2 separate regions of the Homo sapiens genome follow, and region 1 is linked to region 2. The links come from fine-mapping of genetic effects on gene expression. A gene starts in region 2. The other region holds a variant in brackets. All regions are shown on one strand. Distances are from middle to middle.

What was found. PIP is the estimated chance that this variant, and not a neighbour inherited with it, causes the effect. A credible set is the group of variants that fine-mapping cannot tell apart.
Region 1: its variant is the best candidate, but not a certain one, in a credible set for the expression of RASSF8 in skeletal muscle (GTEx, PIP 0.57).

What each region holds. Positions count from the first base shown.
Region 1 is chr12:26,066,497-26,071,814 of GRCh38, reverse strand. It overlaps RASSF8 (Ras association domain family member 8), which reads right to left. Exons shown (of 6, transcript NM_001394098.1): 5 at 4,102-4,246; 6 at 1-3,118. The coding sequence ends at 2,997. Among named protein-coding and RNA genes, the nearest start is that of BHLHE41, 56 kb to the left of the region's middle. The variant T/C (reference allele first, on the strand shown) is at 1,980.
Region 2 is chr12:25,956,213-25,961,592 of GRCh38, reverse strand. It overlaps RASSF8 (Ras association domain family member 8), which reads right to left and starts at 2,911. Exons shown (of 6, transcript NM_001394098.1): 1 at 2,445-2,911. It overlaps RASSF8-AS1 (RASSF8 antisense RNA 1), which reads left to right and starts at 2,151. Exons shown (of 4, transcript NR_038228.1): 1 at 2,151-2,267; 2 at 4,829-4,954; 3 at 5,246-5,366. RefSeq lists silencers at 2,300-2,349, 2,490-2,539, 2,610-2,709, 2,810-3,299.

The sequences.
Region 1 (5,318 bases), 110 kb before region 2:
ACTGTATTTATATAGTTTTTACTCTATCAGTCTTGCTGTAGCTCTTGTTTATGACTAATTTGAACTATAGGAATTGATGATTACCTCATTGATGACTGGGAGAATTAAATAGGTAACTCCTATTAATACCAACTGAAGTCTCATATTATAAAAAAGTCCCTGTGCATCAAGACAAAAAACAAAATGTTATCAAACCAAAATATCTCAGAAGGACAAGAAAGGGACTATGGACACTATGTCCACAGGCAACACACTATGGGCCATTCTCTGAGGATGACAGACACTCAAAAGGTCAAATATACCAATGCTATTCCAAATTATTTCTTGGTAAGATAAAAAGATCTTTAAATGTATTTAATACTTGTAGAAAATCACAATAAAACAAGTTGCAATATGATTTTTTTAAAAAAAACACAAAACATTGAAATCTAATTTAGTATTTAGAACCTGAACATTCCCCCAGATGAAAATTTTATATTTGGTATTTTTGTATACCATTGCCCACTACCCCTCCGAAATGTATCCAGGATGTGGCACTTATCTAATTCATTTGTATTTGCAATAGATAAAAATGATCACAAATATACTAAAGTATCTTCAGATGATCCTATGAAAACGAGTTTTTTTCCCTCTGAGTCTTAGAAAATATTCCTTAGATATGTGCTTCCAGAAGTAATATAACTAATTAAAAAGTACAGCTTCTCAATGTATTCAACATATTCACATTTCTATACTTTCGTCGCCTAGGAAATTTTTTTAAATCTGTAATTAGGTCTATGAAGATTATTTGGCAGCTTGGAAATTCTGATGAAGTTGTCAGAGAGGTTAACTGTGATACTCTGCTGGGAACCCAAGACTACTACAAGTTGCTAGGATGCTGCTTGTCCTTACTTAAAGTTATTAGGTTAATTCTGATAACAATTTATAATGAGTTGGATATTGACAGTGTTTTTCGTGGTATGCCAAGGCATCTCTGAAACTCCTAATTGCAAAGTTTAATACTGCCTCCAGTTTAACATTTTGACTTAAAGAAAATGCGATCAATTTATAAAATGTTTTTCTTTGTGAATAAGATCTTGATTTCTCTGAACAACAACAAAATGACTTTATACAGAATGACTTATTTAAAAATAAGGCATATATTGGGCATATGTAAATCATTACTGTCACAAAATCTATAAATTATTTTTTAATCATCCTAATTTTAAATATAGGTAGATAGAAAATAACTACTATAAATTGTGAGCAAATGTGTACAGGTTGTGGTTATTTAGGTAAGAATCATTTACTTCAGTTATTTGCAAAGTAACATAATGGCAAGATCAATTTGATAACTCCAAGAACCCAAAGAAACTCATATCTTCAGTTGAGGTCCGCCACTTAGCTGCACTAGAAAAGGCAACTCTGCATTATGACTTTCAGTTCTCTAGAAGCTTCTATACAGTCTCATAGCCATTCTTAAAAATTTCATAGGAAACCTAAGTAGAGCAGCATTGTCAGCATTCACTAAACCAAAGTCAGTCAAATGTGTTAAAACATCCAAAGTTGCCTTCATGCATAAGACATAGCTCTATTGTTACCATGGCATTACTATATTAATCCACTTTTATTTTGTTGCATGTAAATAATACAGAGGATGTAACTTCTTCAGAATTAAAACTACTTTAAATTTCAGATTAAAGTCTTAATTATACTGTACCAAATCTAACCAGAGGGAATGTAAAAATGGCTAAGTGGTGTCTGACTGAATCTGTCTAAATATTACTTGTAAATCTTAGTTAAGTCACTACTCATCAAAAAGGTGTTGAGTCATATTTGGTTTTACAAATAAAATAACATATGTACAAATGGAGATTAATGTCTTGTAAAAGTCAAGCCTAAAAATAAAAACATATGCTGAATTTGACTTTATATCCTTGCTAAAAAGTACCTAGGTTTAACCTCCTTTCCATCTAAGTGACTGGAAGAAACCACAATGG[T/C]CCATAATATGCAGAGCAAATTATGTGCAAGCAATACCTTACCCATGGTGTGTACACCAACAGATCATACATATGAAGCGGGTTATTTTAAAATACATCACTTAAAGCAATGTTCCTGAAGTAGACCAACCCAGCTTTCAGGTATCTATAACTTCCATGTTAGATTAATTCTGAAGATCCATGAGTGTAAATGATAAGACAGGGCAGAAACAAAACACATAATGTATCAGGAAACCCCATGCCTGTTTGGATACATACTTACCAATTACATTTTTGTTCAACAGTGTCTGAAACACTGCAAATGTTTTATACATACAATTTAGCTTATGAAAAATATCTGTTATGCTCTGTGGCCACACGTATATTTGGAAATATTGTAAAGGAACGACTAAATTCCAGATTTAAAAAACCCTGAATTATTTCACCTAATTAAGCAATGGCTAGGACAGTTTCACAAAACAAATGCAAGTGGCTTCCTGTGGAGTTAGCTTCGATGGTGGAGCACCCTAGGACACTTGTGTAGTGTAAATCAGCAATGCATGGATGGAGTCTGGCAACATGCACACGGTCATAATCACACAATATGTAACGTAAGTCAGTCACAGGATAAGTCAATAAAAATATTAAAACATCAACATTCACACATTGATTACATGAAATAAATTAAACTAAGCCAGTCACAAATTTCTCTTCACTCTTACTTAAGTCACGGCTTATTTATGTATACACACTATATAATACTTTCCTAAAGCTCTCAAAATGCTACAAATAAAAACGAAGGCTTTGCATTATAGCTGCTGGACAAAAATATCAACACTGTTGATGTGTGAAAACACAGTTTCTTTGTTCTTTAGCATCAGTGCACAGGGTATGGCTCCAAGTGGTATGCAATTTAGGAGAGAAAAAACATACAGCGTCTTGTGGAATAGATCCTCTGTTCATCATTGGCACAAATCAAAAAGGAAGTTTACTGTCCTTGGTACCTCTGTTGGGTCTCCTCCCTAAAGACAGATAATGTCATACATATATGCCTTCAGGATTAAAACCAGATGAGATAGGATTCTGCAGAATGCGGAGATTACTGGGGAGCTGCCGAGATGAACCAGGTCGCTTCAGGGACCCAGACTGGAATGGTGCCTCTAAACAGGAAACAAAGAGAGCCACCTGATGAGCTCGTCAACTTGGAGTACTTAGCAATATAAAAAATCAGACTGCTTCCTACCCCAAAAGGGAAAACTGCATAGAGCAATAATTGCAATCCCCTGTGTGCCCTGGGCTGGGGGAGAAGGCTAAAACCTTCTCAGGTCTCTTTGATAAACTAGTTTTTGTTGATTTGAACAGTGAATGATCTTTACAAAAGGTGAATATTCTGCTTCTTTTTTTGGTTGTTCACACCATATGCATACACAGATTTGGAATTGTCTTTTAAATATCAGCACAAATTAATAATAACTTTTAGAAGAAAAAGAAGGAAAAGGGGGGCATAAGGAACAGAGAAGCCAAAATTCAAATTAATAGACTATAACTCATATATACTTCAGAAAAAAGTTTTAATAAAGAAGTAGTTTCAAACTAATGATATGACATTTGGTGATTACATGCTCACCTAAGTAAATAAATAACCTAAATGTTACTGGTTTTCCTCTAGAAATGGGAAATATTTTTTTAAAAAAAGAATTTTTAAGTGTCCCACTTAAAAATTAGCTATGAATGTTAGGGTAATATTTTAACTGAATACAAGTAGTTTATTCAAAGTTAAGCAGATGGTCGGGCATGCTGGTTCATGCCTGTCATCCCAGCACTTTGGGAAGCTGAGGCAGGCATATCACTTGAGCTCAGGAGTTTGAGACTAGTCTGGGCAATATGATGAAACCTCATCTCTACAAGAAATACAAAAAAAGAAAATCAGCCAGGTATGGTGGCATGCACCTGTAGCCCCGGCTACAGGAGGCTGAGGTAGGAGGGTCACCTGAGCCCAGGAGGTCGAGGCTGCAGTAAGCCGTGGTAATACCCCTGGCATTCCAGCCTGGGCGATACAGTGATACTATCTCAAAAAACAAAAACAAAAAAAGTTAAGCAGTGAGAATAAAGGGAAAATAAACCATATTTATCAACATCTTACCCCTTTCAATGTCTGCATGTGAGGCCTCTATTTCAATGGGCTCCGCTGGCAAAACGGTAACTTTTGTCCCTGTCTGCTGGATGAACTGCTGGAGATTGACTTGCCGCAACTCCTTAGTCAACTGCTCCAGTTCCTGTTCTTTGTCCTAGATGGAAATTATTATTTTTTTAAATTTGAGGATTCACTACTGGACAGTGCAAGACATCTTTGTGAGGATCCATCTGCTACAGGGGTTAAATGTGCAACATCTGCTTTCATAAAAGCACATTTAACAAATCTGGTTTATATTGACACAATGGGCTAAAGAGGTCACTTTCACTCTGTGGTGTAGGCCAAGAAATAAGCCAAGGGAAGACAACAGTTTCATTAGTCTGTCCTCTTAAATGTGATGCTTTCCTCTGGAAAACCATTATGCACCCTTCTGAAATAAATATGTCTATAAACTTTCATTAAAAAACAAAAACAAAAATGGGTTTCTCAGTCTGTAAACTCATTGGTGGAAAATAAAAAGAAAAAACCCCACAGGTTTTTACCCATCTCTGTGTTGCAGCAATCTTGCTAAGCTGGTCACAAATTTACATATTAACCACTTCATATTAACTTATAACTACAAAGTTAATTGTAATTTGTTCCATGGATTTAGAGTTCTTGTTTTTGTAAGCTGTTTCAATTTTCATGGGATACATTATTGAGATTTATCTTACAGCATGAGGAAAGCAAGATTCCCACAAGATTCTCACTATGGAATTCCTAAATCCTTGACAAAGATCTGAGAACTACAGAGTCCTACAGAAGGAGATCAAGTTTGGATAGCTGGAAAGCTGTAAAAGCAAGGAGGGGCATCCTATTATTTAAACAGCTTTTCATTTCTTTCTTTCCTCTACTGTATATAAGAAAAAGTACCCTGGCTCTACCCAGGCTGGGTGGGTCCCAAGGATTTGGTAGGGGTTGGGAAGAGATTAGAAGTGAATGGTTGTTTTCTCCACTTATTTGAGTGTAGGGGGTACTTGGGGATATATCAATATTTGATTATCAGACACTTTTCAGTGGGTAGAGGGATTTGCTAGTAATGACTGTGATAAGTTAGTGTTTTCTGTGATATCAAAAGCAACACAACTTCCACTTGTACCTTTTTTTAAATGTCAAAATGAATCCCAATAGTAAAATACTGACAAATTAGAGGCTGACAAGCTTCTACTGCATGAGAAATTCTTGAT
Region 2 (5,380 bases):
TCACTCACCTCGGGAGTGACAAAGTCACACGTGCAACCCAAGTCTGGCTGGCAGTGGGGTAAACATTCTTTCCACTATACAGAATACTTGGAAACTCTCTCTACACTTTGAATTTTTAAGTCTATTTAGGGTTAGAGCAAGTTAGCATCAAAGAAGAGTAAATAAACGTTATATTATTTTGTAATCCAAATCTTTAATTTATGATGCATGTTTTTCTATCCAACTCCCATTCCCACTCCACTTTTACTTGCAAAGAGTTTTGTAATGTTTTGAACACTAGCAAGATATCTAAGATCTTAATGTTTTATAATAAAGGAGCAAAGCCATTATGCCAGGAATTAACCATAAGAAAAAGACAACAATATCCCACGGCAAACAATATTTTTACTTCCAAGTCATTATATACATCAACATAAAACAGATCAATTAATGAGTCAGAAACCCTGAAGAACTAATCATTTCTCAAAACACAAGGCAGTCAGGTCAAAAACTGACGTAAGTCACCACGTATAGAAGCCTACAAGAGCCAAACACTGAAGATTCAGGTTAAAAGGTTGCAACCTTAAAAAAATAAATAAAAGGCAAAACAAATTATACAACCATGTCGAATTTTAAATCTGTAATTACCAAATATCTGAACCAAATGCCAAATTCAGGAAACATGCATCCTATAAACAACTTAAACACTCTCTGTTCTTTGTAACTGTTTTTTCCAGAAGCACACTGACACTTCTGCAAAGTGAAGTGCCTTTCCTGCCTGCACAGCCCCATGATTTGCTCCCTCTCAGGGCCCTCTAATGCACCCCTAAGCTACTAAAGCCCAGACATAAGATTTGATCAATAAACCTAGAAAGAACTCAGTGCATTACTGCCAATTGTGTCCATCACAGAAAGTACCACCTGGAGACTCTTGAGGAAAAAAATGAGGAAGGGGGAGATTTTTGAAAGGTTTTATCATCTGTATTACAAATTATATTTTGTTGTACTTGATCCTTGAATAGAATAATCATCAAACTATGTTCAGTCTTCTTCAAGTGGGGGATGGTCATGTGTAATTTTATGGTTTGGGGAGTGTGCCTCATAGAGATAAATAAAATTAAAAGTACCATTAGTATGCCCGCTAAAAGATAAAACTCACACAAACCACTTCCCCAAATGATAGTGCTGTCTCCTGCGTCCTGATTTTTGCGTCCACCCTGCACCTCTCCCTGCAGAAAGCTGGCTGGCATTCACTACCGCCTCACTCTGGCAAAGGACAGGATGTCGAAAACCCATTAAGAAAGCTTCTCATTTTCTGTTCCTTCATAACATGATGGCAACTCCTGGCAACTCCAAGATGAAAGGCAAAAAAGAAAATAAAAACTACCTGGGGCCCCCTACCAGAATGAGTGGTTAATCTAATGGAGAGAAAAGCAGAGATTTATACATATTTTAAAATGCTTCCTGGGGACAAAGCAGATCTAATGAATTGCTGAGCCACAATCTACTGGAAAATCCATAAATGTTCGTCCCTGCTGTCACAGGGCTAGAGGATTTTTTTTTTTAATGAAATGCTTTAATGCTAACCTGACAGGGCTAACCTGACAGGTTTAAGTCAGCTATGAGACGTGATTTGCATTCATTTCGCTTCTAAATCCCTAAAGATCAGCAACAATATTGACCCGCAATTATATATCCTACGTTGCACTGTTCAAGATGCCATTTGAGGCTGGGAAAGTAGTGGTTTAGCAACACCAGGCGGCTCTATGATGCTAAAATAACAACGCAACACTGGATTCCGAACCCAAGTACTCATCTTTTAAAACCCAGTGCCGCACCAGGACCCACATTCAAAGCTCGCGTCCCTTCAAGTTGAATCTTCCGGCTTTGTGCGATTTACCCTCTCAAACTTTCTAGTTTGCAAGTCAGAATTACTTTGAACGTCCCCTCTTCTGGACTCCCCTCCCCAAAGGGACTGGCGGCAAAGGAGAATAGAATGCAGATGGTTAATAGTTCAAATGAAATTTAAAAACCTATAAACCAATATTTTTTTAGAGGAGAAAAGCGTTCACCAAACCGCCACCCGGCAAGCGAGCATCCGATTTCCATCCGGAGGAAAAAATATTTTAAAAACCAGACATAAAATTCCCTTTGCAAGAAAAGTGGCCTCTAAACTCCCTTGCCAAGGACACTGGGAGGAAGCAGAAAAGCAAAGACCAAGCTCGTACTTTTCAGTCCGCGGCTTGTGTGCCGCGAGGAGAGGCGCAAAGGGTGACACACCAGGAAAGGTGAACGCAGAGGGAGCGGGAGCCCGCGGCGGGGCAGGGTGGGGGCGGAACGGACGAGGTACCCAAGGTGCGGAGAGAGGGGCAACCGGGCGGAGGGCAGCTCCGAGGCTGCAGGCGGGACGGGCGGGGTCCCCGGCGCAGCCCGGATCGCCGCCGCTAAGTAAAGTTAATACTTACTCAGTTTCGCAACTGCGCCGCCCCCGCAGGCCGCCCAGAGGGGCCGGCCGGGGCGCTGGGGACGCGGCGGCACCCGGAGCTCCGCGGCCGCCCAGCGCCCGTCCCCGCGCCGCACTCCCCGGCACTCCCCGGCGCTCCCCGCGCCGCGCGCCCCGCACCGGCTGGAGGCCCCGGCCCCCCGGCGTTCCCTCTCCGCGCACCTCCCGGCCCGCGCTAGGTGAGTGTGGACGCCACTGGCGGGGGTGCCGCGGTGCGCGAGCGCTCGGCCAGCGGCAGAGACGCCGCGGGAGCCGCCCCCAGCGCCAACGCCGCCGCGGGCGGGAAGGGCGAGGCTCGGCGAGGCTGGGCGAGGAGCTGGGCGGCAGACGCTGAGCGGGGCGCGGCGCGGGGCGCCGGACGAGCGCGGGCGTAGGAGGAGCGCGGGCGTAGGAGTCGGCGACCCGCTCGCTCCCGCGGCCGGTGCCTCTGGGCTGGGGGCCGGGCTGGGGGCCGGGCCGGGCCGGGCCGGGCCGGGCGGCCAGGCGGCTCCGCCCCTTCGCCGGGCAGCGGCTGAGCGCGCGAGAGGAGCGGCGCGGGGGCGCCCCCCTCGGCCGGGCGCTCGGGTTTCAGCCGCCGCTCCTCCGCGCCCCGCCCGCGCCTGGCCCGCTCGCCGGCGCCGGGAGAGACCTCGTAACGGAACTGGGACGCCAGCGCTGCATTGTGGGAGCTTTTAAAGCGGCGGGGAGCTCGGCGCGACCCTCGGGCCCACCGGGCCACGCTCGCCCGGCCCGCGACGCCCCCCCGCTGTCGCCTGGCCCGCGACGCACCGAGGCCTGAGGACCCGAAAGCCGGGCGCGGGGAGATGACCGGTGGCTCGTGACGGTCCCACGGGCAAAATCTTCCATCGCCCGGGGCTGAGACTTGTCAAACTGCCCTCTACGGTCACCCGGAAAGTAGGAGGCTTTTTCTGCAGAGGGGAAAAAAATCAAAAAGAGCCGTTCCATCCCCCCTCCAAGGACTGGGTTTGAATTGCTTTTCATCTGCAGTGGCTGTGATTCAGCGTCCCTCTTAGCAGCAGGCAATGACAGAGGCAGGAGAGGGGAAAAAAAAAAAGAAAGAAAGAAAAAACACAGCAAATGAATCAAACGGACGTGAGTAACAAAAGTTTAGAAAGAGCTGGGCTCGTATTCAGAAAAAACGCCTCATCCCCCCGCCCCGCTGCACTCCCAACCCCTTTAAAAATAGCAGATAATCAAGAAAGGAAACGGGTGCTTTCATATGGAAATACAGATGTGTATGTTGTTTTCAATATTCTACTGTTTTTTTGTGTGTGGCATGCAATTACTCAGGCACTGGGCAAAATTCAGCCTTTGGATTTTGTGGTCACACATACCCCAACTCCGCAACAGCTATTAATTTGCAGGGCGATGGGGTGCGGATAGTGGATGAGATACAAGAAAGCATTCCAATTAAAATGCCCCCCCCCACCCCGCCTTTTAATTTTCCAGACACTTGCTTTTATTTTTCTTTTTTTAAACATCATCAAAACAAGAATATTAAACTTGAAGCAGAATTTGTTACAGCGTATCTGACTCAGGACCTGATTTAAGGTTTGGGGTTTTTTGGCCCTTTGTTTCTTCCTCTTGTTTTTTGACCTTTAGTTACTCCACACCTCATTAGTTCCTTGACCTGCAGGTGGACTGAGAAGAGAGCCATGGTAAGACTCAAATTTGTCAAATCAACATTTGGAGAGGAGAAAGTTCACTGTGATTCAAATGCAAAACCAAAGGGAATATGATTTAAAAGTCAACCTGGAGGGCATGGATCCTCCCTTAACCCTACTTGACTCTTTTCAAAGGAGTTGCCTAGCCTTAAGGTGAATGTTTCCTAACCTCTCATTCCCTTCTCAGCCTTTCACTCCACTGAACAACATCAGCCATTGCTTAATTGCCAAATCTAATGGAAAAATTTAATTCCCATCTTGTGCCCTTTGTGGCATTTGCCAATGTTGACCTCTCCTTCTTAGAACTTTCTGCCTTTTGGCCGGGCGCGGTGGCTCATGCCTATAACCCCAGCACTTTGGGAGGCCAAGGCTGGCAGATTGCCTGAGGTTGGGAGTTCGAGACCAGCCTGACCAACATGGAGAAACCCCGTCTCTACTAAAAATACAAAATTAGCCGGGCATGGTGGCACATGCCTGCAATCCCAGCAACTGGGAGGCTGAGGCAGGAGAATCGCTTGAACCTGGGAGGCAGAGGTTGCAGTGAGCCGAGATCACGCCATTGCACCCCAGCCTGGGCAACAAGAGCGAAACTCCATCTCAAAAAAAAAAAAAAAAAAAAAAAAAAAACTTTCCTCCTTTCTTTGGCTGTGGTAGTGATCCCTCTTTTGTGTACTTCTTGAAGCAGGTAGCAGGCAAGAGTGTGGTTATCGTTGGACCAGGATTCAGGATCTGACTGAGTAGCTGACTCTTAATCCAGTTTGTGTTGATCACCAGGAGGATCTGGACCTCAGTATTACCACATCTAGAGGTGAGCAAGTTGACTGACTCTTGATAACTAACTCTTATATGATGAGCATTTATATCAGGACAGAACTTCCTGATTGGATAACAATACCTACTATTTAGGAAAAACCCTTCCTAAAAATCCAGGTATCCTCACCTCCAGTCTTACTGATGGCTGCCAAAGTCAGTGAATTTGCCTCCATTCAGTGCTGGATAAGTGCAGAAAAATCTTTACCCTACCTAGCCCATTTGGTTAATGCGTTCTTTCTTCAGAGTGTAGTACAATTTGTTTTAAGCTTTTTTTTTTTTTTGGTAGCTATAATCACATCCCTGTTAAGCCTTCCTGAGATCACACCAAATGTCCTTGATGGGAATTGTAAACAACCCTTACTTCTGGTTTCTAATGATATTCCAGGAAAGGAGCCTAACTAGAGTCAGTGAGTATTCATGC